7 separate regions of the Homo sapiens genome follow, and regions 1, 2, 3, 5, 6 and 7 are each linked to region 4. The links come from fine-mapping of genetic effects on gene expression. A gene starts in region 4. Each other region holds a variant in brackets. All regions are shown on one strand. Distances are between the middles of the regions. Region 1 overlaps CADM1 (cell adhesion molecule 1). Region 2 has its middle 6.4 kb from the start of LINC02698. Region 3 overlaps CADM1 (cell adhesion molecule 1). Region 4 holds the start of CADM1 (cell adhesion molecule 1). Region 5 overlaps CADM1 (cell adhesion molecule 1). Region 6 has its middle 270 kb from the start of LINC02151. Region 7 overlaps LINC02698 (long intergenic non-protein coding RNA 2698).

Evidence for each region. PIP is the estimated chance that this variant, and not a neighbour inherited with it, causes the effect.
Region 1: its variant is fine-mapped to the expression of CADM1 in monocytes after LPS (Fairfax 2014, PIP 0.95).
Region 2: its variant is fine-mapped to the expression of CADM1 in nasal epithelium (TOPMed, PIP above 0.99). The same link has a PIP of 0.9 or more in esophagus mucosa.
Region 3: its variant is fine-mapped to the expression of CADM1 in thyroid (GTEx, PIP above 0.99).
Region 5: its variant is fine-mapped to the expression of CADM1 in transverse colon (CEDAR, PIP 0.91).
Region 6: its variant is fine-mapped to the expression of CADM1 in lung (TOPMed, PIP 0.92).
Region 7: its variant is fine-mapped to the expression of CADM1 in unexposed skin (GTEx, PIP 0.98).

Annotation. Positions count from the first base shown.
Region 1 is chr11:115,172,150-115,176,242 of GRCh38, reverse strand. CADM1 (cell adhesion molecule 1) reads left to right here. Exons shown (of 12, transcript NM_001301043.2): 12 at 1-4,093. Among named protein-coding and RNA genes, the nearest start is that of CADM1-AS1, 220 kb to the left of the region's middle. The variant G/T (reference allele first, on the strand shown) is at 2,113.
Region 2 is chr11:115,650,956-115,655,049 of GRCh38, reverse strand. No RefSeq gene overlaps it. Among named protein-coding and RNA genes, the nearest start is that of LINC02698, 6.4 kb to the left of the region's middle. The variant G/C (reference allele first, on the strand shown) is at 1,730.
Region 3 is chr11:115,180,539-115,184,538 of GRCh38, reverse strand. The region is part of intron 10 of CADM1 (cell adhesion molecule 1); the gene reads left to right. Among named protein-coding and RNA genes, the nearest start is that of CADM1-AS1, 210 kb to the left of the region's middle. The variant T/C (reference allele first, on the strand shown) is at 2,248.
Region 4 is chr11:115,502,659-115,506,740 of GRCh38, reverse strand. It overlaps CADM1 (cell adhesion molecule 1), which reads left to right and starts at 2,326. Exons shown (of 12, transcript NM_001301043.2): 1 at 2,326-2,470. The coding sequence starts at 2,347. RefSeq lists a silencer at 2,141-2,300.
Region 5 is chr11:115,207,474-115,211,473 of GRCh38, reverse strand. It overlaps CADM1 (cell adhesion molecule 1), which reads left to right. Exons shown (of 12, transcript NM_001301043.2): 8 at 1,817-1,900. Among named protein-coding and RNA genes, the nearest start is that of CADM1-AS1, 190 kb to the left of the region's middle. RefSeq lists an enhancer at 1,455-2,654. The variant G/C (reference allele first, on the strand shown) is at 2,152.
Region 6 is chr11:116,229,981-116,234,074 of GRCh38, reverse strand. No RefSeq gene overlaps it. Among named protein-coding and RNA genes, the nearest start is that of LINC02151, 270 kb to the left of the region's middle. The variant A/G (reference allele first, on the strand shown) is at 2,404.
Region 7 is chr11:115,750,870-115,754,963 of GRCh38, reverse strand. All of the region lies in intron 2 of LINC02698 (long intergenic non-protein coding RNA 2698), which reads right to left. Among named protein-coding and RNA genes, the nearest start is that of LINC00900, 7.3 kb to the left of the region's middle. The variant T/C (reference allele first, on the strand shown) is at 2,410.

The DNA of each region.
Region 1 (4,093 bases), 330 kb after region 4:
TCTTCCTACCAAGTCAAACTTGGATACTTGGATTTAGTTTCAGTAGATTGCAGAAAATTCTGTGCCTTGTTTTTTGTTTGTTTGTTGCGTTCCTTTCTTTTCCCCCTTTGTGCACATTTATTTCCTCCCTCTACCCCAATTTCGGATTTTTTCCAAAATCTCCCATTTTGGAATTTGCCTGCTGGGATTCCTTAGACTCTTTTCCTTCCCTTTTCTGTTCTAGTTTTTTACTTTTGTTTATTTTTATGGTAACTGCTTTCTGTTCCAAATTCAGTTTCATAAAAGGAGAACCAGCACAGCTTAGATTTCATAGTTCAGAATTTAGTGTATCCATAATGCATTCTTCTCTGTTGTCGTAAAGATTTGGGTGAACAAACAATGAAAACTCTTTGCTGCTGCCCATGTTTCAAATACTTAGAGCAGTGAAGACTAGAAAATTAGACTGTGATTCAGAAAATGTTCTGTTTGCTGTGGAACTACATTACTGTACAGGGTTATCTGCAAGTGAGGTGTGTCACAATGAGATTGAATTTCACTGTCTTTAATTCTGTATCTGTAGACGGCTCAGTATAGATACCCTACGCTGTCCAGAAAGGTTTGGGGCAGAAAGGACTCCTCCTTTTTCCATGCCCTAAACAGACCTGACAGGTGAGGTCTGTTCCTTTTATATAAGTGGACAAATTTTGAGTTGCCACAGGAGGGGAAGTAGGGAGGGGGGAAATACAGTTCTGCTCTGGTTGTTTCTGTTCCAAATGATTCCATCCACCTTTCCCAATCGGCCTTACTTCTCACTAATTTGTAGGAAAAAGCAAGTTCGTCTGTTGTGCGAATGACTGAATGGGACAGAGTTGATTTTTTTTTTTTTTTCCTTTGTGCTTAGTTAGGAAGGCAGTAGGATGTGGCCTGCATGTACTGTATATTACAGATATTTGTCATGCTGGGATTTCCAACTCGAATCTGTGTGAAACTTTCATTCCTTCAGATTTGGCTTGACAAAGGCAGGAGGTACAAAAGAAGGGCTGGTATTGTTCTCACACTGGTCTGCTGTCGCTCTCAGTTCTCGATAGGTCAGAGCAGAGGTGGAAAAACAGCATGTACGGATTTTCAGTTACTTAATCAAAACTCAAATGTGAGTGTTTTTATCTTTTTACCTTTCATACACTAGCCTTGGCCTCTTTCCTCAGCCTTAAGAACCATCTGCCAAAAATTACTGATCCTCGCATGATGGCAGCCATAGTGCATAGCTACTAAAATCAGTGACCTTGAACATATCTTAGATGGGGAGCCTCGGGAAAAGGTAGAGGAGTCACGTTACCATTTACATGTTTTAAAGAAAGAAGTGTGGGGATTTTCACTGAAACGTCTAGGAAATCTAGAAGTAGTCCTGAAGGACAGAAACTAAACTCTTACCATATGTTTGGTAAGACTCCAGACTCCAGCTAACAGTCCCTATGGAAAGATGGCATCAAAAAAGATAGATCTATATATATATATAAATATATATTCTATTACATTTTCAGTGAGTAATTTTGGATTTTGCAAGGTGCATTTTTACTATTGTTACATTATGTGGAAAACTTATGCTGATTTATTTAAGGGGGAAAAAGTGTCAACTCTTTGTTATTTGAAAACATGTTTATTTTTCTTGTCTTTATTTTAACCTTTGATAGAACCATTGCAATATGGGGGCCTTTTGGGAACGGACTGGTATGTAAAAGAAAATCCATTATCGAGCAGCATTTTATTTACCCCTCCCCTATCCCTAGGCACTTAACCAAGACAAAAAGCCACAATGAACATCCCTTTTTCAATGAATTTTATAATCTGCAGCTCTATTCCGAGCCCTTAGCACCCATTCCGACCATAGTATAATCATATCAAAGGGTGAGAATCATTTAGCATGTTGTTGAAAGGTTTTTTTTCAGTTGTTCTTTTTAGAAAAAAAGAAAAACAAAAACAAAAACAAAAAAAAAAAATCACACCATTGCTCACAGAATTGGCATCTCATTTTTGGGACCTCCCATCTTTCTGTTTTGAAAAGTGTACAGTAGTGCAGTGTTCCTGATGTAACTTTATGGCTTACAATGTTGACATGTCTCAGGTTCATGTGTT[G/T]CGATTGGTGTTTTCCGTCTCAGGTAGATTGCAAAGTGTAGGCCCCACACATTGGAAAAAATAATAATAAAACAAAGCAAAAACAGGAAATTATGGATTTTAGTTGTATATTGGTTTATGTATTTTTTCTTAAGTATACAGTGCACTGTTTGAAATGTATTGTTGAGTATTACTTTGTACAGGTTGATCACTTTTTTTAGAGTGAAGAAAGAACAAACTTGTTTTTTGTGTTTTTTAAAGGAATATAAAATAATGAAGGATGTATAATTGATGCCAAATAAGCTTGTTCTTTAGTCACACCGACGTCTTATTTTTCCCTTTAGGCCAGTTCTGTTTTTAAGGTGTACATGGACAATGTTACAGTGTAAGAAACTCCATATCCATATGTTCCCATTCGCATTTTGTATTGGTTCATGTATACCATTTTTACAAAAAAAAAAAGAAAAAAAAGAAGTACTATAAAATATCTGTCTTCTTAATAAAAAAAAATTAATGTTACAAAGTGATCCTTTAATCTCTTTATGGACTTCTTATGGACGCCTCCGAGTGAGAGAAGAGATGGGCCTCTGGTCCCAGCTTCCTCCTTAGGACCATGTACGGGGCCAGGAACGCTGGCAGTAGATGCTAGGACATGCTGCCGGCTGGGTTGCTGGGGGCCGCGCTCTCTCTCCTTCTCCGCTCATCCTTCCTGTCCTTGTTCTCTTCCCCACTCTCAGTGGACAGGTGAGCCAAGTGCTGTGCCGTGGCTGAGTCTGGGCTCCCACGTGGACTCAGCGATTTGTGCAGGTGTGCGAGCTGTCGTGGCGGGCCCGCCGGAACAGGCCGCTCCCGTAGATGTGTCTTCCGCACTCATCCCCTCTCTCACCGCCCCCCCACCCTCACCAACTTCCCTGTGTTGGCTGCTCCACCTGTCTCTTACTTTGGGAGTTTGTGTCTTAACAATTCATTCTGCCTTCTTCCTTGAAAGTTCTCTCTCCTTTCATAAAAAGAAGACGTGAGCTGTGGAGGACTGGCTTGGCTGCCTGCAGAAGATTGTTCTCACTTGCTGTTTAGGTTGCTGAGACTTCCAGGCCTGGGTAGACAGCAGGATTTGCTCTGTTGTCATCGTCCTTGCCTTGCAGGCTGAAGTGAGCAATGACTACACTTCATGGTGGCCGATCTTATAAATGTGCAGATAACGTCTGGCCAGGCCCAAAGTGCCCTTTTCCCACCATCCCCTCAGCTGTGGTTGATGAGTTCCCCTTTTCTCCCTTGGCCACGTCATGGGGAAAGTTCCATAGGAAAAGCAAAGGTAAGCTCCAGAAAGACTGAAGGCTGTGCATCTCCCCTTGAGCCACTTCCATCCTGGCCTGGTCTCTTACCTGTCTCTGTTAAAAAAAAAAAAAAAAAAAAAAAAAAAAAAAAATCAGATATGCAGTTATTGAGCACCTGCTGTATGTCCAGCATGGTGAGGGATGCAGAGAAGTATAAGGCGGTCTCTGGAGGCCAAGTAGAGCATCAGTTACATCACCTGAAAACTTGAAGTGACCCTGAGCCATGGGTGCCCCACTGAACACAGAGAAGCCCAGAGAGTGCTATGAGAATTTTCTGGAGAAGGGTAATCAGTGAAGGCTGGTGAGTCCCTAGACAGCTTCACAAAGAGCTGGGACCCCAGCTGGATCTTAAAGGATGGTTTCGTGGAGAAGGAATGTGAGTCAAAAGTACAGAGGGCAACAAGCCCAGCCAGCCTGCTGATTTGTATGGGGAGAAGAAAGCAATTCCGTGTGCAGGGTGGGATGGGTCTTGTGGCTGTACTGAAAAGTCCGGGCAGAGGACTCGATACTTCAGTGACCTCTCCCAGCCTCTGCCAGAGGGCAAGGAGCAGTAGGGAGTACTCATTCATTGCATCTCTATAAAAAGACCCAGAGAGATAGAATAAGGATCAAAAGCACACACTAGAGAGAGGCTGCCTGCATTCAGATCCCTGTCCCACCATGTAGCA
Region 2 (4,094 bases), 150 kb before region 4:
CGTGTGTTTTTTTCATCGTACCTAGAATACTGCTGAGCATATAGTAGATGCTCAATAAATATTCGGTCAAGGCATGAATTAAGTAGTGAATCAAGAGTCTTCAGATATGAGGGCTGGGAGAGACCTTGAAGATAAACTAATCTCTAACTCTCAATTTGCGGGTGATGAAAATAAAAGCCAGAGAGAGTTTTGTAGAGAAGGTGATGTTCAAGCAAGGTTTTCTTTTCTTTCCTTTGTTTTCCTCTTTTTCAGCTCTTTCAGTTTGTGCATTTGTTCATTCATTCATCCTTTCACTTATTTATTCAGAAAATATTTATTGGACACTACAAAGTACTAATCACTGCATAAAAATAATATTTGAAATTTAAATTATTAACCATCAAAAAAATAAGTATTATATTTTAATGTAATATTGATCACTTTCTTCCAGACACCTTGCTAAGCGCTTTACATCCATTATTTCATATGAACAACCATACACACTATTATTGGCCTCATTTTGCAGATGATAAAATTAAGACTAAAGACACTGCATGGCCTGCCCTAGCCACACAGCTAGAAAGTGGAGGAGGTGAGACCCATGCTGAGGCCTGTTTGACTCCAAACTTCTGTGCTGTACCACTGCATCTTGTCCCCGCTCCCCACTCTTTCTTTTTCCTTCCCATCTCTGGGATCAAACCAAATGGCCCAATCGAGGCGGCAGAAGAGTCAGCCAAGGTCACCCCGAGCTGAACCCTTTTGAGGCCACACAATCCTGCCACTCCACTGGCTCCCTTGAAGCTACCTCTCCCTGTCCCAGCTGTTCTCCTAGTCCCGGCCCCACGCTCCAAGTCCCATATACGAATGCTGGTATGACTCACAGCGCCAAGATCGGTCACTGGGAAAGAGGACTCATAAAACCTTACAGCAGTTTTATAATGTATTCTTAGCTTTTACAGGCGTCCTGGGCGGCCGAGGCTGGGTGGATGGGCGGGCCCCATAGACCCAGAATTGGTGAGAACCGCTACCATGTGTGTGTGTGTGAAGACAGCACCGTCTTTTAGCTGCCTGATAGGGGAAGGGCAATACAAGAAATGGCATTTCTTCAGCTCTTTACAGTTTAAAAAGCACTTTCACGTGTAATGCCCACCAGATAAGGAAGGTATAATTTCAGAGTCACAGGTAAGGAAACTGGTACAGTGCCAGGACTTGGAATTGGGCTTTCCTTCCTGAATTCGGATTTGGTGCTCTGTTCCTGGGACCAGCTGGCATGGCACTAACTCTCAGTGACCTCAGCTACGTCTGTCCACAGAGAGAGATCCTAGGCAGCAGCATCCTCAGGTAAGGGGGAAGAGTCACCTAAAGTCGACACTGACACAACCACGGGGTCTCAGTCCAGGCCCTGTTACCAGCACATCCCAGAGCAGCCTCTGAGTACATTTCTGCTACCGACACCCAAGGATAGGGGATTTTTCACCCACATCTGTGCTGCAGAAGTCCTAGCTCGACTCCTTCACCTCCCTTCATGCTCCCCTGACTATGTTCTGCAAGCCACCCCACCTTTCATGTCCAGTGCAGACCCTCATTTGTGCCAGGCAAGGGGGCTCAGGGCAATGATGCAGTAACGATGCCTCACAGTTGTAATCACCCACACTATCTCATTTATTTGGATTATTCCTGAGTTCCTAATGAAAAATAAGTAAAGTGGGTCTTGTCATCCCTCTTTTACAGATGAGGTAACAGGTTCAGA[G/C]AAGTCAAGCAATTTTTCATATGTCACATAGCTGGTGACTAAGAGAAACAGGATCTGAATCAGGTATTCTGACTCAACTCCAAGTTTCCCTCTTCTCTTCAGTAAATTTCTGATAGTCCCAGCTTGCCTCTAATTGTTCAGTCTGACAATATTTCCAATTCAATGGATTTCCTGTTTCCTCCAAAATTGAAACCTGGAGCTGACTCTGTTAGCTACTTTGGTCCAGAATGGGCATTTTTGAGCTTGTGAGTTTTTGAGAGTGCAGCTGGGCGGTATTCCTTAGGTATCCATTTCCTTACCACTGACACTAACACCAGCCCCCAGTAACACAACAGGCACCTCTAAGATCGTCTCACTTAGGCCTAAGCAAGGGACCCAGTTAATTCTCCTTAATCCTCCATTTATGGATCACTAGCCCTTCCATGCAGGAGAACACCTAGCATGGTGTATTAGTCCATTTTCACAGTGCTATAAAGAAATGCCCAAGACTGGGTAATTTATAAGGAAAAGAGGTTTAATTGACTCAGAGTTCCGCATGGCTGGGGAGACCTCAGGAAACTTATAACCATGGTGGAAGAGGAAGCAGGCACCTCTTACATGAGGTGAGAGAGTGTGGAAACTGTCACTTATGAAACCATCAGCTCTCGTGAAAACTCACTATCACGAGAACAGCATGGGGGAAACTGCCCCGTGATCCGATCACCTCCCACCAGTTCCTTCCCCCAACACATGGAGGTTACAATTCGGATTGCAATTCGAGATGAGATTCGGGTGGGGACACAGCCAAACCATATTACATGGTTTCAATTGTCTTTCCCTGGAAACGTCACCATGAGGCTTCTCCAGCACTGGTTCCTTTATAGCATCCAGCTCCTTGTGTGGTAAACAGGACCCTGCACTAATCTGGCCCCCTCCTGCTCCAGGAGCCTCATGTATCTCTGTGCCTTGTCCCCCACTGTGCCCCAGTCACTAGCACTGCCTGCAGCCTGTCCAGGGACCCTGCTATCTCACCCTCCTTCCACACTGCTCCCTCCCACCTGGACTGCTCCCCTACATGGAAGGCCCTACCCAGGCCTCTTGGCCTGGCAAACACCTACTCATCTGTCAGGACACAGCTCAAATGTCACCTCCTGTGAAGTCTTTCCTGGTACACACCCCCATCATCCCTGCCGTAGAAATCCACCACCCCTCCTCTACACAGCCCTCACTGAGCCCTAATTAAAGAACTAGCTCCCCGCTAGGTCTGAGAGCATTTTGAGAGCAGGAGTACTGTTTTATTTCTCTCATCATCTACAAAGCTTATCACAGAGCTTGGTAAACTAGAGATGCTATATGAGCCCTCACTGAATGTAACAACACGTGAATGGATAAACAGTTAGTCAATTCCACATTACCTGTGGAAAGGAAGGAAAGGAAAGCTACACCAACGTGGAGCTTAAAACTTTACCTATGTCTCCATCCACAGATGCCTGGATAAGCAAAATGTGGTAAATAACATACAATGTAATATTATTCAGCCTTAAAGAGGAAGGATATTCTGACACATGCTACAACATGGATGAAACTGGAGGAACTTGTGCTAAAGAAATAAGCCAGTCACCGATAGACAAACATTCCACTTATATGAGGTACCTACAGTAATCAAATTCAGAGATAGAAAGTAGAATGGCATTTGCCAGGAGCTGGAGGAAGGGAATAATGGGGAGTTGGTATTTCATGGGTACAGAATTTTAGTTTTGCAAGATGAAGAGTTCTGGAAACGGATGGTGGTGATGGTTGCACAACAATATGAATGTACTTAACGCTACGGCACTATACACCTAAAAACACCTTTTTTTTTTTTTTTTTTTTGATGGTGGGGAGGGAGTCTCACTCTGTTACCCAGGCTGGAGTACAGTGGCGCAATCATAGTTCGCTGCATCCTTGAACTCCTGGACTCAAGAGAGCCTCTCATCCTAGCCTCCCAAGTAGCTGGGATTACAGGCTTGTACCACCATACCTGGCTTTTTTTTTTTTTTTTCATGTTTTTGTAGAGACATGGTCTGGCTATATTGCCCAGGCTGGTCTCAAACTCCTGGCCCCAAGCGATCCTCCTGCCTTGGCCTCCCAAAGTGCTAAGATTACAGGTGTGAGCCATCAGACCTAGCCAGGAAAACTATTTGGAGCAGGGCATGTCTAGATCTTAGCGGCAGCATTTTCTAGGAACTGGTACCTGTACCAAGCTGGTCAAAACTTTACAGAGCAAGGTGCTAGGGACTTGGTGATCAGGATAGAAAAAAGGGGCAGGGATCATTCAGATAGCATCTCCCCTGAGCGCAGAGAAGGAAATGACGAACAGTTATACTTGTAATATTCGTTAACTCCT
Region 3 (4,000 bases), 320 kb after region 4:
TATATTAACATCTTAATGGGAAAGCTGTGCATGTACTGTATACATTTACTACTCTCTGACAAGAGGGAATTAAATGTCAGAAGGATTTGTAGCATCTATAATTGAATTGGTGCTGAGAAAAGCAAATCTTAAAGAAGAATAACATATTAGGATTAGCAAATAATGTGGCATTTTGTCAGCGCATGCCATTCAGTTTGTTCCCCTTCAGTAATAAAGTTGTGCTTTTTAAAATGCACACTTATTTTTGTTGCCATGGACGGGAGCTACAATAGATGATGAGAATGGGTAGCTACATTTTTCAGATGGTGCCAGGTTTTCTTAAGTGTCATTTTTTTTTTAGGTCAGATTATGGTTTTGCTTCAGATTTGGGAAATCCACTACCAGGCTTTTTCTTTCTTCCTAGCAAGAAGTAACAAATGACATCATAGTCACTAAGCTTTCTCTGAAATAGACTAATCCCTACAACCCTAGGAAGCTGGAGGCAGCATTTCCATTACAAACACCGATTCTGAGAGTTTGTAATTAAACTGACTTGTCCAGCAAGATCTCCACCCAGGAAAGGAACTAAAACTGAGCCACGTGACAGAACTGTTGCAAAAAAGTCCGCAACAATTCTTTTCCTCCAGTCATCCACGGATGGGGGAAGCACAGAACGCTGAGCATCTGAACTGTCCCTAAACAGAAGTAGGAAGACTAATACCGTTAGAACCTCCCCATGGCTTAAACGTAAAAATGAGAGCTGAGGTAGTTTATGACCTATGAAAAGAGTTAAAGTGTGCGTTTAAGCGCCATGTTGCTAAATGTGCCTTACAGCCTGAGCCAGGGATGTTTGAGATGTGAGGGTGACCCAGTGCAATGTGGCTGTCATGCCTCATGCTGCATACTTTATTGTGTATCATTGTGTCACCCTTCACTCCTTCTCAGAGGTAGAAATCTTGGTGTCCTTTTGGCAAAAAGACTGACCTTGGACTCTGTGTAGCCGAGGGCTTCAGGGTGGGCAGGCAGCAGTTGCAGTGAAGGTTCTGCTCAGTGAGTCCTTCTGCCAAAGTCCCTATTTGCCAGGAGCTTGTCTAGGATGTACTAGCCACTCTCCAGTTATCCATGGATCCCCACTTTGGCAGCAGAGCCTTCTAGGCTTATCACAGATCCATGATTATGGCATTTGCATGGCGGTTTATGCTACACATCTCATGCCAGGTGGTAAAGTAGCCATAGAAACCAGGATCTCTTGCAGAGCCCTGTTTAATACAGGCAGCATGGCTGCCAGAGTGCTGCGTTTAAGACGACTCTGGCAAGGAGTTTGAGGAATGAAAACAAGTAGAGAAAGAAAAGTCTCCTAGAAGGAGGGGAAAGGAGACTGAAGTTCCACTAGCAGTCACCTTTCTTGTCACGCCCTGGGGAACTACTGCCTTTAGAACTTCCCCTTCTTATTGCCCATGAGGAATGGATCGGGCCAGGTCAACTGGCCCAAGGTAAAGAAATCTGAGCAGTTTGGGGCATCACTCTTGGGAGTTTCTTTGAGATTTCTCTGTCCCGCAATTTCTAAGATGCTAAAGCGAGCCCAGGGTTGTTGAAGCTGTGACCCAAGCAGTAGTGGCCAACTTAACATTCTGCAAGCAGCTGGTAAACTCTCACCTGGAGCCAAGTTGTTTCAGCTTTTTGCCAAAAGAAAAGCTAACTCACGAATACTAAACACCTCATGATTTATCTGTCACACTTAGAGCCATGGAAGTGGCTGCGGGATGGGACACGACAGGCAGGGAGGGTTGTACCACAACTGTGAGCTGTCAGGAACACCTCCCTGCAACTGCTGCCTGCCCGCCCTGAAGCCCTCGACTACAGAGTCCAAGGTCAGTCTTTTTGCCAAAAGGACACCAAGCTTTCTACCTCTGAGGAGGAGTGAAGGGTGACACAGCGATACACAATAACCTTTACAGGGTTCATCTGCAAGTCAGAATCATTCAAGGACTAGGCCTAATTCACCTGAGGTCACATGTGAAATAATTTGGATGAGATTCTTAACTCCAGTTGAACTGTGTTATGCAATCATGCTTGGTTCACTGAGGCTGGAATAACCTTTATGCTGGAACCATTCACCAAGCAAAAACATGGCTTTACTTTTCAGGATGATGGGGCAGGGCTTAGTCCCAGAAAAGAAACACTCTTACACTTGTTACTAGTAAGAGGAACACTTGTAGCCTCTTAGGGAACAAGAAAACATGGCTTTCTAAACCGAAGTGATGTCCA[T/C]ATGCCTGAGCATCAGGCATGTTTAAAAGTGCTTTCCACTCCCACATTTATTTTTCAATTGACAAGCTAGGGGCAGCTGTAGAATCTGCCTCTGGTTTCGTTGCCTGCCCGATTCAGAAAATGAGCCGGGAATCTGAAGAGAATGTCCCCAGGAAAGCCAGCACTTCATGGGACCTGAAGAAGGGGTCTGCACCCTGCAGGACCAGGATCTGTGGCTCATGGGGAAACCCATAGCTTTCCCACTTAGAAGTCATTTCTCATGGAATTGGTTAGAGTCCTTGCCTTGGGAATGGAAGGAAAGGTCAAGCAGCTGACAGACTTTGTCGCAGCCATGCTTCTCTTAGTGCTCGGTATTTCCTTCCATTTCTGGTTTTCGTGCGACTCCAGTAGCCCAGTTCCCCCCTGGGCAGCATCTTGCACGGCTGCTTCATGTCATGAGTGAGGCACAGCCCGCAGGTGCAGGCAGCTCACCCCGGCCCTGCTGCCTTGAGCCAATCCATGGCATTATAAACACTCCCCCACCCTCCCCACACGTGGAAATAAAAGAACGGACTGAGATGACTCCAGAAACAGCTCTGCTTTTCATAGGGAAGGCCAAGACAGAGGCACTCAGTGAACAGGCACAACTCTATTAACACCTCCCACGTAAACCCAGGAGGTGGGAGTGGGGGTGGGAAGAGGCGGTGAGGCGCTCGTAACCGGCAGTGTTCCCTGTAAATTAAACATCAGTTACCTTCTGTGTCCATCTGCAGTAATTGAAGGCAGGAGAAATGTCTTGGTGATTAACTGGTGGTAGTAAACTTTCTGATCAAAGTGGGTATCAGAAGATAGCTGGAGAGATTACCCTTATAAATAAGTATCTGTAAAATATGTATGTCCTTGAGGGTGGGGAAGATAACTAGAACATCTAAGGTTCTAGTTTAATTTGGGCAAAGTGCAGGGAAAAATAGCAACACTGAGCATATTTAGCTCAAAGTTCATGGAGGGCAAAGGTCAAGTAAGGAGTTTCGGCTCAAGAAATTAATCTCACAGATACATATACCTCGTGAGATCTTTTTGTTTGAGGGAGGTTTTTGTTTTTCTTTGTCACAGAGCCTCTCTCTGTCTCTCCCCTCCCCCCTCCCCCCTCAGGCTTCCAGAATATTCCTGTGTCTAGGCATGGAGAGGAGGCGGTCTTTTATTAAGAGTGGACAAGATAGTGTCTTCCCCTAGATGGGTTAGAACTGTCCTGGACAGCTTCTCGAAGCTTCTCTCTGTTCTCAGTCTTCCTGGAACCTCTCTTCACCTCTTGCCTCTTGTGCCTAACTTTCCCCTGTCCTCAATGTCTAGTCTCACTTGTTTTCCTCCCCCAATTTTAAAACATACAGAGTTCATCGAAAGACACATAAATTTTAATAGGTCTGAAGCTCATGGCCATTGGAGATGAGTTAATTCTCATTCCCCCAAGATTCCCTATTTTGACAGCTCCCTAAGGAAAACACAACTTGCTGGCTTTTCTGTTACTTTTGTCCCCCATGAGCAATTTTGCATCTGTGCAGTTGGACTGAACATCTCCAGTGTGTCAAGCGCTCTCCTCCAGCAGACACCCCGTGTCCAGCAGCACCCCACGGGGAATGCTCCCCTTCAACGAGCTTTGTCGTCTCTAAAAAGGAAAAAAAAAAAAATCCCTTGACCGAGTTCTGCCTTGTTGAAATGACTTTCAAGACAATGGGGGTTGTAGCATCTGCAGTTGGCAACACTTTTGGCTGAGGAG
Region 4 (4,082 bases):
TACCTTGGGGATTGTTTCAAGTATTAAATGAGATTTTGCATGTAGAATACTTAAGAATTCAGTGAATGCAAGAGTAGTAATAATAGTAACGGCAGATAATAATGTTACTATGTGCCAGGCTCTGTGTCAGGATTCTTGCCATATAGGACCTGCCTTTATAGTTTACATATCACTTTCAGCATACATATGGCCTTACTTTTTTTTTTTTGAGACGGAGTTTCACTCTTGTCGCCCAGGCTGGAGTGCAATGATGCGATCTCAGCTCACTGCAACCTCCGCCTCCTGGGTTCAAGTGATCCTCCTGCCTGAGCCTCCTGAGTAGCTGGGATTACAGGTGTGTGTCATCACGCCTGGCTAATTTTTGTATTTTTATTAGAGACGGAGTTTCGCCGTGTTGGCCAGGTTGATCTCGAACTCCTGACCTCAGGTGATCCATCTGCCTCAACCTCCCAAAGTGCTGGGATTACAGGCATCAGTCAGCGTGCCCGGCTGGCCTTAACTTTTTTATTCCAATTTTGGTGGAACTTTGCTCTCTATTTGGTCCGACCCAGGTACCTCACTGCCAGAGGTAGTAAGAACGGGTAGGACTTTGCAGACTGGGCATTATCCTGGCACCCACGTGGCAATGGTTTCCTGTCTCCTGTAGTGCTGTTCTCCTGTTGGAGCTTTCCCCACTTCTGAAGGACTGCCTGCAGTTCATGCATCGGGGCCTGTAATTACAGAGCAGAATATCCAGGGCTGTGAAGACCGGGCAGTCTCGAAATTAGTTTATGCATAATGGATAATAGGAGGCTGTTTTTAAGTGTAACTCATTTGGTGGGTTGGCAGATCATGACTTCCTTTTTGATATGTATTATTTATTTATTTTATAGCAAGATGAGGACAGAAGGCTGGGGAAGTCATTTGGCGCAGCTCTTCTAGACTATAGCTCAGACTTAGCAATTTACATTCAGTAATCTCTTGGTCATTTAGCCACAGATAATTTGTCATGGTTTGTTTTAGCTGTTGTGATATTGATATTTATTATGCAAATTGTATTTCCTACATCTTATTGTTCTGCATTCTATGAATACTTAAATTATTATAAACCTTTACACTTAATATGGCTCGTCCTTCAATTTGATGCTTGAGCAACAGAGGGTCAGAGCGCACACGATCTTCTAGAGGGGAAGAAAATAAGTAATTAAAAAGCAGACAAACAAGAGAGCCGGCTGCCTGGCTGAAAAGAAAGCAAAGAGAATTTCGGGGAGGGAGAGTGAGTCCGGAGATGCAAGTCGCTTTAGCAGGAGAGGCTCTCCCAGAGACAGGGGAAGCTCGGAGCACCTGTTGGTCCCCAGCTTCCTTAGGAAGGGCTGGGGGCGCAGAGGAGGAGTGAGAGGGTTTGAGCCCCGAAGGAGGAACACGGCAGACCCTGCCTTCACCACACTCCCTCTCCCCAACTCCCACCACCCCCGCTCTTCACCTGAAGCCTTGACTAATTTTTTCCGTTGTTGTGTAATCTTAAATATCTAATATTACAAATATTTCACACATATATTCAACACACACCTATATATTAAAACCAGGGAGGAGACCCTCGACAAGCGGAGGAGCCTGAGCATACCCTCCTCGATCTACCTTTCCCGAGATTCTGCCGCAAAAAGACCGACTGGAAAATCTCAGAACCCGACTCTACGGCTGCCTTCTCCAACTATCCCCGAGTCTACCGCTAGGCTGTTGAGCGGGCTCTCCCGCTCCGCCGGACGTGCAAAGCACGCATGCACTTCTCCCAGATTGTTTTGTCAATCCGGGGACCTGCCTTCTTACTCTCCACTCCCGCACAGCCCCCGTTCCCAAAGATCTATTCCTTCGGTGCAAGGTGAGTGACGGAAATTTGCAACGTCTGGTTCGCTAGGCCAGATGCACTCGGTGTGCGGGACAGAGGACCCTCTTAAGGGAGATTCTCCAGTCGTCGGTCTGATACAGCGATTGCTATAAACATTCCTAATAAAGGTGTACAAGAAGCTAGACCCGCCCCCTGGAGCCCGAGTCCTTGCACGCCAGGCGCCCGGGAGAACACTTTTTCCTTGATCCGGGGAAAGCAAAACCCGAATTTTAACATAAACATATTTGCATACGCCCCTCCCCTTGGCCCCGCCCCTAGGTGGCGCGGGCGCGCCGCCGAACGCCAGCGCCAGGGGGCGGGGTGGGGGAGGGAGCGAGGCCCTCCGAGAGCCGGGTTGGGCTCGCGGCGCTGTGATTGGTCTGCCCGGACTCCGCCTCCAGCGCATGTCATTAGCATCTCATTAGCTGTCCGCTCGGGCTCCGGAGGCAGCCAACGCCGCCAGTCTGAGGCAGGTGCCCGACATGGCGAGTGTAGTGCTGCCGAGCGGATCCCAGTGTGCGGCGGCAGCGGCGGCGGCGGCGCCTCCCGGGCTCCGGCTCCGGCTTCTGCTGTTGCTCTTCTCCGCCGCGGCACTGATCCCCACAGGTAGGTGTGGGCACCGACCGGTTGGCCCCTAAATCTCCGAAGGCACCCCAGTAGCCTTGGCCACAGAGGGGGGAAACGTTTCCATGACAACCTCCCCCCACTTCCTACATCCGAAGCGGAGGGAGTGTGGAGAGGAAACTCAGGGCTGAGAGGGAAGGGGCTGAGGGCATCTGTGAGCCCCTTCTCCCCTGCCCGGCTAAGTGTGAATGAGAGTCCCCAGGGATGGCTGCACCCACACCTTCTCTCCCCGGCTTGGCGCGGGGTGCAGAGTGGAGTGAGAATGGGGGGCCCGGGGGCTGTAAAGCATGGGGGAAGGGGATGGTTCAAAGACAACCTCAACCCTTCCGGACCCTTCTAAACTCGCCGTTCTCCCCGTAACTTGCAGGTCCTCCCACCTCCCAGGGCTGTCCATTCGCCCCCACCTCTCCAGAGGGCCCCCCCAGTTCTCCATCCCCGAAGCCTCCTGGTGGCTGACTCCCAGCCGCCCGCGGCGTGATTTCTCCCCGGTCCCCAGGACATCCCCAGACTTGTCTGATCTCCCCTGCCCCTTCCCCCAACGCGCTCTGCCTTTCTCCCCTGTCCCCAAACTGCACGCCTCTCGTGTTTCCCTCCGGCCGTTCGCAGCCCTCCGCCCCCTCGGCTCTGCTGCGGGTCTTTTTGGCCCGGCTCCAGGCGGGGAAAGTTCCCCGGCCCGGCCCCGCGGGGGGGGCGGCCGCTGTCGCCGCCTCTGCGGGAAGGCGCCGGGAGCCCGCAGCCCGCCCGCCCCACAGCGTCCTCTGCCACGAGTGGGGACACGGGATTTCCCGGCTGCCCGTTCTTTCGGCGGCCCGAGGGTGGCGGAGGGGGCGTCGCGGCCTCTGCGGCCAGGCGGGCACCCTGCGGGCCTCCGCGCGCTCCCTGCGTGAAGAGCAGTCTTGGGAATTTGCCCAGGGGCGGCTCTGCACGCCCGGTGCCTTCCCTGAAGACACCGAGCACTCGGCTGGAGCCCGATGTGTGGCTGCCCGTGTGCCGGGCGCGTTGGCGCGGTCGGGAAAGAAGAGGGCAGTGTTTGCTTTTGCTAACAAAAGGGAGCCGGAGCTCTTCCTCAGCGGAGAGGCCGGCTGTGCTGCACCCAGCCTCCCTTCCCGCCACCTCGCCGCGCTTGGCAGCCGCGCGGCGTCCTCTGGCCCCTGCTGCAGGCTCCAGGCGGGCGCCGGGACCGAGTGGCACGGGGCCGCGGGGTGCGAGCGGCGATGCAGGAGGGGATGCAGCAGGGCTCTGAGCCTGCAAAGCCCCTCCTTGCAGCTCCAGAGCTGCAGGACCCGGGAGCAACAAGTGGCGGAGGACGCCGAGAGCTCAGCCCCCACCTGCGGAGCCCCAGGCCCGGGCGGGCACAGCGTTGGGGCCACGGTGCTGCTTCAGGGGCGCCTCTCCGCTTGGGCTGTGCCTTTTGTTTACACGCTAGAGGACACACAGTTATGTAAACACCGCAGGAGACACGCTGTAGGAGACGGGGGATGTGTGGGGGTGCTAGCTTGAGATTTGGGGGACGCCGGGTTGGCTGCTTGCCCCCAAAATAGGCTTGCAAAGGAGCTCGGCTTGGGAAACCTATTGGGGGGCGTCTGGCAGCAGC
Region 5 (4,000 bases), 300 kb after region 4:
AATAGGATTATAGTATATCAGGGGAAATCTCCCAGGAACAAATGTTCCTTTTCAGTAGTAGATATAGTAATTGAAGCAAAACAGAAAAATCACATTAACTGACCCTGTGCTGGGCAGCAGGCACCTCTCTGGATATAGTTTAGTTGTGTAGTGGAGGGAGCGGGACGTCTTTAGTGCTGGGCTCAGGGGTCAGTGCACTTGGTTCATTTATATCTATGCTGACACCTGCAGCAGGTGTGTAGGTGCATCCAAATGAGTTTCCAGGTCACAAAATGCTTCCCTACCTGTGGCCTCCATAAAAAGTGTGAAGGAGCAAGACTGAACACATGGCCTGAATCACCGTATTTCTCATTCTGCCTTTCTTTTAAAAAGGTAGTTTAAAATCACTAACTTAACCATTTTTACCTCTTGGAGGAGAATGAGATTTTTTTTAAACGACATCCTTTTTTGGACTCACGTGAGGCTGCTTTAAATGAAAGTGTAAACTGCTTGTATCCCCATCTTAAAGGAACGGAGCCTCCCATTGAACAGAACAGTTGATTCTTCTCTGTTAATTTCATCCAAGTGTGTTTGTGTGAGAGAAGCAATTTGTGAGGAAAATTAAAAGCTCAGATTGTTGATCGATGGTAGATATCATTTTAAGTAGACTTTGCAACCAAGCACCAAAATAATATTTCTATAAACTTTTGGGAAGTTGCACCAAACCCAATAAAGGTGCAGTATATAATTAAAGTTTTGATGTATTAATTAGACAATCTGAGAGCTCACTTGAAGATAAAAGGACACCAGATGTGTCAGGGAGAAAAAGTTGACATGCTTTAGATAAAATTTAAAATCAAAAGCTTTCAAATCGTCTTATGCTCTATTATAGCAGAATGATTGCTTAGTTCAAAGTCTTGCTGACAATTTAACACATTCAGTTTGATCATTTGGGCTTAGAATTTTTTTTTCTCTTTCATATTTGCCCCTCCCTTGTCTCCAAATAATTTTTGAGATGATAGAAGAATATACAGTATATCAAATATCTGACAGAGGGTTCCCTATCAGGTTCCTGGCTTTGAAGGTCGAGTCTCATTTATATTTAGTTCTCTTGTTTACAAGATGGAAAACGTTCTTTCAGTTTTATCACTGTAGTCTACTTAGGTCAAGCTTTTAATATGAGCAAAGGCAACTTATTAATATTTATAAGTTGTAAAATTTATTGACTTTTAAAGAATAAAATCTCAGTAAAATCTCACATGCCTGGAACTTGATATTTAGTGGTGACATTCTCTCTTCTTTGTATTTATTATGAGTAGAGAAGTAGTTTTACTTCCTGCTGGGTTGTATTGATGGAGAATAATGAAGTTAACAGTCACAGAGAGCAAGTGTGCAGGGGCACGCTCATCCTTGGCTGATATGAGCCCCCTAATAGAGCAGCACCACCTCCTCCTCCTCCTTCCTGCCATCTGTAAAAGCTGAAACGAAATGACAACCATTGTACCCTCTTGGTACTGAGTTGATTTAACCTCACCTTTGAAATCTGGTAGGGAAGAGGGGTGTCGTATGTTTTGATTTTTCCTCCCCTCTCTTCACATCTCCTCATCCCTAATTCACTTCATTAATGAAAATTCTCTTTTCTTCTTTTCTCAGCTCTTCCAACTAAGGCTTTGGGATATAATTACAAGACATAAATCTTGCAGGGAAAGAACTTTTGGTTTTAAAGGGGGAAGCCATCAAACAAACATCTCAATGTCCTCATGCCTTTGTTTTGTCATTACTGGTCATTGTTGTGTTCAGCATTGTGGGTTTGATTTTCCTTTTTTTTTCTATCCAGATCCCCCCACAACTATCCCTCCTCCCACAACAACCACCACCACCACCACCACCACCACCACCACCATCCTTACCATCATCACAGGTATGGTATCTTCATTACCATTGAAAATGTCCTGAATGTATATTGTCTTTCTGGTATGTATAAAAAGAAGCCGAAAAGTTCCCTTTAAATCCTTGGAATTTAATCGTTCCTTTATTTTGGAACTCCAACGACATTAGATACTATGTTCTTAAGTTGAATCTTAAGGACCTCAGAAACATCCCAGCATTTAACAGTACGTCAGATATTTTGCAGCTTATGCATAAAAGAATTCTTTTTTAAGCATCACTATT[G/C]AAAGCAAAATGCTAGGGAAAATGGCAGCTGGCTACTAGAGAACACGCCTATAGCTTCTGCTTAGACATGTTTGATGAAATGGTAAGTACTGTGGCTTTCAATCTTGTCTCTGTCTTAGTTTCATCTCAGTCCATGTAAGGGAAAATATACACACCTAACTTCAATGTGCCTATTTGGGCCATGCTACTAAATGCATAGTCATCCTTCCTGCTCCAGAGAGTACCCGCTGACAAGTGATACTACCTGTTTGTGTTGCCTAGGTAGTCACAAGAGATCAGAGGGAGTCACTGTCTTTTCCATGCTGAGCACTCATGTGCCCCTCCCTGCCCTCGGTCACATATTGGAAGAGTGGAAGAGGCAGCCACTGTGGTTCTAACTCTGCGGCTTTATCTTTTTGGACTGTCTGAAACTCTTATTCAGCATGAGTTTTACTGTCTCTTGTTTCTGTCACTGAGGGAGGTGGCATGCCATCCAGCCCTTCCTGGCATCCAGTGGCTCTCTCATACTGCTTGATGTGGCTTGTCTGGGAGCCATGGGGTTTCTTCTGCCTACCTAAGTAGGAAAGCTTCTGGCCACACTATGTCCACTTGACATGAAGGATTTCCCTAGATAAGGCCTTCCCAACCTGTGTTTACAGGGACTTAACACAAAAACATGTGAAAGTAATTATTCTGTGAGAAAAAAATATCTCTTGAAAGAGTAACTTTTCCGCTGCATTTTGTTAGCTGGTGAGACTGCAAGGTATCTGAACCGTGTGCCCTGGTACCCACCCCTGTCTCTGGACTTCTTTATGAACACTGAGTATTTGACTCCCCACCCTTCATGGTCAGCTCCTTTTAACACCCTAGATATCATTGCTGTCCTTTTCATTGACATGCTAGAGACATTTCCAATTTTCATGGGAGTCAGTAAGATAGAGATGATGAAAATTCAGAGTGTTCAAAGAAAGAGGAGGCCTCATCAGTTGATAGAATATACAACAGATTGTCTAATCTCAGTTTTCTTCACTTTTCTACCCATTACAGTGGAAAAAAGAACCCTTAAGGAAGCCAGTGCTTCTCAACATTGGTTACAAAACCATCAGTGCCAGCACTTAATTTAAAATCTTCTGAAAATCCATCAGTTGGTTTTCATGTCTCACTCTAAACTCAGCTCCAACCAGGCTGCTTCCTAGATTCTTGTCTGTGTGTGTTTCTGTTTTGGCTCTTTGTTACTTCCTTCTGTAAACTTAAGTAAACTCAGTTTGTTGACCTAGTGAATTGATTCTTTCCATTTTCTATACTATTCACCAGCATATCAAAGATGCTTCTTCCTAACTCTGATTTCCAGAGTAACTGTGCTATCAGCTTTTCATACTAAGAACTAGGTTTTTACCTTTTCACATTTCTTGCCTGCTACCCAGTTCGTAAGCCAAATTAGACTCGTACTCTTGTGAAGTGCCCTTTAGATACTAGTGTAAAATATACTGCGTAATTCTCCATTGCCCTACATATATTAACCCTTTAAGAAAATATATCACCAGTCTATTTTATCTTCGCAGAACTTGCCCAGGTATGAGCCAGCATTTATTACCACTCATTCTAGAAGGTGCCAGTTAGGTAGCTATCCAGGTTTACATTTTAAGGCAGTCGAGACCTTATTCACGTGGTATATAAACAACCACATTTCTCTTTTATATGGAACAACACTTTTCATTTGCGGCTGGCCTTCTCACTAGCTTATGCTTTTTTTTTTTAAGACCTTTCTTAGCACTCGCTGAACTCCTCCCCCTCACAATCAATCTCAGCAACTCAGCAGAGTCGCTTCAGTTCACAGCTCTTAATCCTTCACTCCAGACTAAAGCTAATC
Region 6 (4,094 bases), 730 kb before region 4:
AGTGAGACCCTGTCTCTAAATAAATAAATCAATAAATATGTATTGCATAACTGAAAGGCCCTGCTCTGATTTCCTCCCTCGTCCTGTAGGAAGCTTGGGACAGGCTTTGGTAACAGGAATTTCAAAAGGATGATTTTCCCCAGCGTGAAAATCCTCATCTGGCATCTTGCATCTGATGCAGCTCTTCTATCCACTCCTCCCTGCCCCAAAGGGGCCACTGATTCAGATCCCAGGCATAGACTTGTAAGCTGTCTAATTTTTCCCATGATCTCTTGCCCTTTGCTCACTCAACAGTGTCCTGGGAAAGAAGTTTCTGGCTGCCTACGCACTGGGCTCAGGAAAACACAGAATTAGCACTGCCTCAACTTTTATTTTTAACCATTGATTGATCTTGGTTCCAGCAGATTTATTTTCAGCATAGGGCCTGTGGGCCGGTGCTAATTTACATGCCTAACTGCTCTCCAGGAGCTAAACCTCTCAAGCGATGTTCTGACACACCGGGCTTTGTCACCCTGACCCCTTCTCATCTCCTCTGGGGAAGGGATGGGAACTGCCCCTGCCAAATGCAGGGGGATCAGTCCTGGAATTCCATTACCTTCCCTGGGACTGAGACTTGGTTAAGGAGCTACATCCAGCCCTTACTCCTTCTGAATTCATCGCAGATCCAGATTATACTAGATTTAGATTCTATTTCTTTGTATTTTATTCCTCCAACTCATATTTATTGAGAACTTACTTTATAAGTACACAGAGCTAGACGCTAGACATGGAGGTGGGATGGGGAATGGAATTCCATGATGAGTTAATCTTTGCCCTGCCTCAAAGTCGAAATCCAGAGGAAAAAGATTGTGAGACAAGTGTTTAGAATCAATGTGATAAGTGCTAAGTAGAAATTTTGCACAAAGTTTTGCAGGGAGAGGGAAGCTAGTTAATCTTCTTAGAGACTTGTCAGGAAGGTGTCATTTTATTTACATTGCTTAGTGCAAATGTAATTTGCACTATGTCTCTGCAAGTCAAGATCTTGTAGGGATAGGAACATTCCAGGCAGAGGGAACAGCATGTGCAAAGGTATGGAGGCCAGAAGGCAGATGAGGAACTTGAGAAAGAGCCTGTTCAATGTGGCTAGAGCACAGAGTGCATGACAGCAAGTGGTGAAAGATGAAGTGGGAAAGAAAGGCCTCTCTGCTAGTCTGAGAACCTTATGATCACCTCTGCTTCTTTATGCACTGCCTACCTCTCTAAACAGACCGCATGGGCCTTGAGGGGCGGGACTGTGTTGCTGCTGCTGCCTTGTCACTGTCTCATAGCTCCAGGCTCAGCGCTGTAGGGGCAGTAGCCAAAGGAAGAGCCCAGGCCTGGCTGGGCTAGCAGGCAGGTCCTCCTGGAGCCAAAACAGATCCTCCCACGTGAAGTTTGAAAGGAAGCATCTTGCAGCTCCGTCTAATTACAGGGTAAGTGAGCGGGCCTCCCTCATGGTTAATTTGCTATGTGCCTTTATTGCCAGCAGAAGACAGATGACTCACGGAGGGTATTCCATATAGGCCTGCCAGTAATTGTCTTTATGACTTCATGAGCCTTTTATGGGCTCCACTGGGAAAGGTGTTTTATTTTTCTTCTTTTCACTCTCCATTTTCAGTCGGTAAATAACCAACTTTCTGAGAGCAGGAGGAATGTCAAGTTCAGGATGTAGGTAAAGCAATCCCAAGATAGGCCATGGCCATCAGAATGGAGGCTGGGGTCAAAGCAGAGGACAGAGAGAATGAGGACAAGTTGGCACGCTAAAGGGTACATGAAGGGGGTAATGCCCATCAGTGATTAATATACACATCATCAAAATTTAAACATGAATAAATGTTCCTTTGCAGCAGATTTACTTTCTCAATGATGCTTGGCTTAGATTAATGATAATGTGAGTTTATGTTTCCAAAGTATACACAGACTGTTCTGCTTGAAGGGCTGGGGGAAGGAGGTGGGAGTGGGTAGATGGGGAAGAAATTTGTGGTGTCCCAAAAGAGTGTTATGTGGGAGGATAGTCACAAGTACTTTATATTTAATTAGCATCTAGTCTCTCTCTATATGCAAGAGGTGCAACAGTGAGACATTTGTTTAAATAGAATGAGAATGGAGAATGGAAGGGTGTTGCATGTCAGTGGCACTCTGGAGCTGGCTAGCCCTGGTTTTCAAAAACCAGTTGTTACATTTTCAGGAATTTCATGAGCTGTTTTACTTCATGTTGGCAGTTTCAAACAAGCCATAGTGGGATTATTTACACCATGGTAATCGGCAAACACTGCAAAGCAGAGACCCACCCTCACTCGACCGGTTGGTAAACATTTATCCACATACCATTGTTGTCGCCTTCTATACCACTGAAGTGTTTAAGAGGGGGTGAAGGACCGCCTG[A/G]CAGGATAAAAACTATGGGCTAATATTTATTGACCACTTACTAAGTGGCACGTACCATTCTAAGCACTTCACATGTATTTATTCATTAACCCTTTCAACTCCATGGGGTCGATGCTATTCTAGAGGCTAAAACTATACCCAGAAGGCTGAGACTTAAGAGACGGAGCCAGAAAGGATTATTAGCTTATATCCTCATTTCGTGGTTTTACAGATGAGAAAACTAAGAGCCAGAGAGGAGAAATGGCTTGGCCAAGGTCAGTGGCCTGGAGGTCTGTCTCCTGACTCCCCAAGCAGAGTCTGTTTCTCCTGCTCTTATTCTTCCAGCTTTCCATACTATAGTCCTGTTTAGATCCAGGCAAGAGCTGCACCTAAAGGCCTAAAAGAGGCAACCCCCAGGCCAGAGTCCATGGAATGAGTCCAGTGGGCTCTGTTTGTGTTGTTCCTATTGCCTCTGCTGCCATCGCTGGGGTCTGACTGCTCTCTGCTGCCCAAGTGCCATCCAGGGTTGCCTCTCCTTCCAGTTGCCATTGTCTGAGGGTCCCACTGGAAGCAACCGAGACTTCAGTCTCTCAGCAACCATCTGGAATAACAAGAAAAAATAAATAAAAATAAAAACCCAAGTCAGAGCTCTGCCTGTTAGCCCAGAGTCCTTAGCTGAGGGTGGAGGGGGTGAGCACAGGTGGGCTGAAACTCTCACAGCCCAGTGATTAGCCTGGAGAATTCACCGCTAACTGCATAGGAGCTCAAGGGGAGTCCAATGTGGAGCAGGGTTGGGAAAACGACTCTCCTCGGGAGCTGAGGCTCTGCCGCTTGCTTTGCTGATTGCTTTTGGTGTGAAAAATGTGGCCCGAGTCAAGGAAAAGAGACTCAAGATGAAAATCCCTTCAATTCTTAAATATATAGGTATATTCTAATGTAGACGGCATTCTAATATGGTAAACATTCCAATGTAGACTATAGGATCAGGTAGTCCCAGAGCTGAAAGGGCCTTCAAGAATGCTTTCCCCGCCTCCAGGCATCAGTGGGTGTTGCTGGCAGGCAGGGTGCTACGAAAGGGCTGTGCTGCCAGGGTGTCAGTGGCACCTTGCCAGATAAATTCACCTTTTTTTGAGGCTCAGTTTCTTAATCAGTTGAAGTAGGGGGTTTCAGACTATAGGGACCCTTCCAGGTCTGACATTCTAGATCCTAAACAAAAGGGAACAACATTTCAAAGATGGAATTACGCGCTCGCGCACACACACACACACACACACACACACACACACACACACACACAAATTGACAAATAGGAAAAGCTTTCAAAAATCTCATTCAAATTGCTGGATTTGTCTATTAGTGAGATTTGTTTCTTTGCATATGCTAATTGGTCTTGGCATTAATTAATCTGATTTCATTATATTCTCTTTAATTTGTCAAGATATCATTTTGTTATTGGGTGATGGAACACTTTGGAGGATTGTTAGAATTGGAATATATTTCCCCCTCTTTTAAAGCTCCTGGAGAAAAGTCGTTATCAATTAAGTTAATTTGCATACACATTAGGTTAATCGTTTTAGTTTAGCCAAATTTGTGGAAATTTACATAGCAAATTGACCCTCCACATTTCACTTAAACATATGTAGCACACCGAGTAGTATATTTTGAGTTGCTAATGAAACTGAGGTTATTTTACACGCTTCTTTTAGTAAAAG
Region 7 (4,094 bases), 250 kb before region 4:
GCAGTGGCGCAATTGTGGCTCACTGCAAACTCCACTTCCCTAGTTCAAATGATTCTCCTGCCTCAGCCTCCCGAGTAGCTGGGACTACAGGCGTGCATCACCACACCCAGCTAATTTTTGTATTTTTAGTAGAGATGGGGTTTCACCATGTTGGCTAGGATGGTCTTGATCTCTTGACCTCGTGATCTGCCTGCCTCAGCCTCTCAAAGAGCTGGGATTACAGGCATGAGTCACCACGCCCGGCCGAAACACTGCTTATTACAATTTATAGGTTTATGTTCAAAAAGTTGCTAATCTTATTGCTGTGAACCCCTGCCATCTCTAGTCCTGCCCACCTATAGGTACTGCAGACCAAATTACAGATTCAGATTTGCCCAGTTCCTGTTCCTGTCTTGACCAATCCTAGTAACTTATTTGGGGCCCAGCCCCATCTTCAGTGGAAGGTCTAAAATTGGCCTTGCTTCCTTAAGCTGGGTACACAGTGGGCCCAGGACTAAGCCTCATGAAGCTTTTAGAGGCCCACTGAGATTAACCTTTCTCACCAGTGCTCACCTTGTCTTCCTAGTGACCATGGCTGCCTTCTGTCTAGTTCTAGAGTTGCACTCTAATTCTCTTCCAGCGCTGTTGCCCTGATCTACATATCTATCTCTTTTAGAACTTTCCAGCTTATGTGTCCAATGTCAGTCTTTCTTCCAAATAAATAGAACTTTATCTTGATGAATATTTAATGTTCAACCCACCCCTGGTCCCTGGCTAGAATCATCTCTGAAATGTCTAAAGCTCTGCCACTACCTGCACCAGGAGAAGCAATGTGTCACCACCAACCTAATAGCAACCATCAGCTTTGCTGGAGTTATCCATTCACCGAACTGAATCTATCAGCTTTCCTGAGTTCACTGGGACACTGATTTGGACCGGACACCATCACTTGAGAAACAGCGTTAGCACCAGGGTGAACACCACCAGTACCCGACCTGCCTGTAGTTAGCTTCCTCCTCTTTCCCTATTGACCCACAGATTAAGTTGCTGCATGCCCTGGGGCAACACCTGGGGGTATGACAACTGAAAACTAAGAAACTAAGTACTATACATCCAATTTGTCTGTGTTCACTGCCCACTTGACGTTTCTACTAGGATGCTTGCAAGATGCATCAAACTCCGTAGTCCAAGATCATACTCATGATCTTTTGCCCAAAACCATACCCCGCTTCCATTCTGATACTCCTCTAATCAGTTTTCCACACTGCAACCCAAGTGATCTTTTCAAAATGCAAATCTGTTCATCACACACATACACACTTAAAACCCTTCATTGGCTCCTCTTCGTCCTCAGGAGAAAGGCTCATATCCTTAACACAGGCTCCCCGTCCTGCGTGTTTGGCCCTGGATGCCTTTCCAGCCTTCCCTGGCCTCACTCTCCCTCTCCCCTGATATACTGCAGCCACCAGGGTCATGTTAGCACGTGGGTCACTCTGCAGAGAATTAGATAAAGGTGCCCCTTCTGGACAGCCCAGTTGGAAAAATGATGCCCTTTCCTCTAAGCTGATGCAGTGTCTCATGGGCGATCTCACTTGGCAAGAAAAGCAGGGCTGGATTTCAGCTCCTACTCTGCTTCCTCAGCCCAGCTGTGCCCCCCTGGTCCACAGCACAGCCTGTGCTGGCCAAACCAGTTGCCTGCCTTCTTTTGGGTACCCCCAAATACACCATGTTCCCTCCTCCCACTGGCTTTTGCTCTTACTATTTGCTCAACCTGGGATACTCTTCCTCTCTCTTTCTATCCAGCAATCCCCTACTTAACCCTCAGATCCCACCCAACCCTTACATCCTCAGGAAAGCCTTCCCGATCTCTCCTTCTTTCCAACCAGTTTAAGTTCCTTTGTAATACCCTCTCATCAGACAGGGCTTCCATTTCTCCTAATACTGATCCATTTTGGAAGCTTACACTCATTTGTAGAACGAATGTCTGACACCCTCATTGTATTACAAGCTCCATTAGTGCAGAGACCATGTCCTTTTCATCTCTCTCCATTGTAGTCCCAGAACTTAACACAGGGTCAGGCACATAATAGTTGATCATTAAATATTCATTAAGCACCTACTGAGTGCAGGCTGCTCTTTAGTAGATGGTAGTGTCTGGACTTTATAATCAGAACAACTTAAGCTTCCCAGAGGCATGATTAAGCACGTCAAAGAGGAAAATATTCTGTTCCACTTAATTATGCATTTTTATTTAAAAATAGAAGTCTTTATTAAAACAACAAAGCATAAATATTAAAGAATGTATTTAAATAACTTGTGTAATTTAGTGCAAGCTTTAAAGGTTCATAAACACTGAAAGGCAATTCAATGCCTTTTTAAATCGTTTTCTATCATTATCTCTACTTTATCTAATCTTGTCTCTTAACCCAG[T/C]TTGGAGGAGAAGTAATTCATTCTGACTCTCCTCATTTTGTCTCAAAACCTGCTAAGGCTTGTCCACAACTGCGGCATGTTTCTGGCCTCCCGGGCTTTAGATCAGATTGTAGCAAAAGCCTCTGCAGGTAGTTTGCATCTTACTCCACTGTGGGAGAGCTCCCACAGTTTTAATGGAGAAAGGTCCTTCTCATGAGAGTAAACATTTTGGATATCTATCACTCTTTCTCTTTGCTTCTTATCCTGGTACAGCAGAAAGAAGTCAGATCATTCAGTAACACAAGAGCATGGCTTCCATGCCACAACCCAGTGGTGGTCATTCTTTACCATTTCCCAGGAGCTGGCTTCCGAACCTGCCTTTTAGAGAAACTCTTCATGTGAAAACCTGTTTCTCCATTGTCAGGGTTGCTGATCAATAGCTTGATCTAGTTACCAGTTAGACACCTATATAACTGCAATTCCTCAGAACTTAATGTAGCAAACGATTAAGCTGATCCTAGCCGGGTCTATGAAAGAACAAATAGTGTGGTCCTACACTAGGTGTGGCCACCTGCCCATTGGGGATAAATGGCCCCTGCCACCCAGGTGGATCTGCTTCTGAGCTTAAACTTCCCTTCAATCTTTTTCCCATGGCTGTGTGTTTACAGGTGCACAGAGAGAAGCCTGTGTGGTGGTGAAAGCTAGAAAATAAGAAGTCCATCTATTCACAGAGTTGCAAAGAGGCCATTAATGCTAAGCTTCAGCAGTGGAACACAGAAAACGGCATTAAAGGATTTACTTTTCATGACCATAATTCACAGTTAATGTACATTTGATGTTTAATGTATGAACCAGAGGTGACTTCAAACTTGCGGGCCTTTTCTAAATAGCGTTTTAATCTAAGTTAAAAAAAAAAAAAAAGGTTCATACACTCAGTCTGTCAGAGAAGAGGGAGGGGAAAAAGGCAAAGCTAGGTGTGAGAATCCGAAGTGGGGGCAGGCTTTTGTTCAGTCCTTTATTGAGGTTTTACCTCTAATCTCTCCCTTTTTGATGCAATTTAAGATTAAGGAAATGAAAGGCATGGCTGACTGTGAATGGTTTTACAAACAGGACAGCCAAGGGGCCCTCAGAAGACAGTTTTGTAAGAGGCTTTGGGCTTCAGTCCCTAGGAAGGATGAGGTGGGAGGTGCTACAGGGCCCGAGTGCACGGGAGAGTGGCCCTGAAAGGGCTGGTCTGTCTGCAGAGAAACTGACCTTCTGCATCCAAATAGGAGGCAGTGGTGGCCACCACACAGCTCAGTGGGAATCAGAGTCAGGTGAGGGAAGCCAAAAAGCATGATGGTCAGAGCAAGGGGTGCCATGCTCTGCTGGGAGGAGCCCCCAGATTAAACATGCTGGGTCCAGGATCTATCATGTGATGTCACCTCTCAGGACAGCAGTTCCCTCATCCAGATAATAAGGTTTGCAGGCTAAATCAGTGATTTCCAATGGGCTCTGCTGAGACCCTAAGGCACAAACACACCCTCAGGTGCTCTGGCAGATACAGTAGGGGACTCACATGGAGAGACCCTGGCCCTTGGCCCTCAGCATTTTTCAACAAGAGCAACTCCACTGTTTTATAATGAAGAGTTCCACATAAGATTTTTTATACAGGGAAGTTTCCCAGTTAAAGATACAAACACTGAAAGGTAGGAGATCAGCTGATC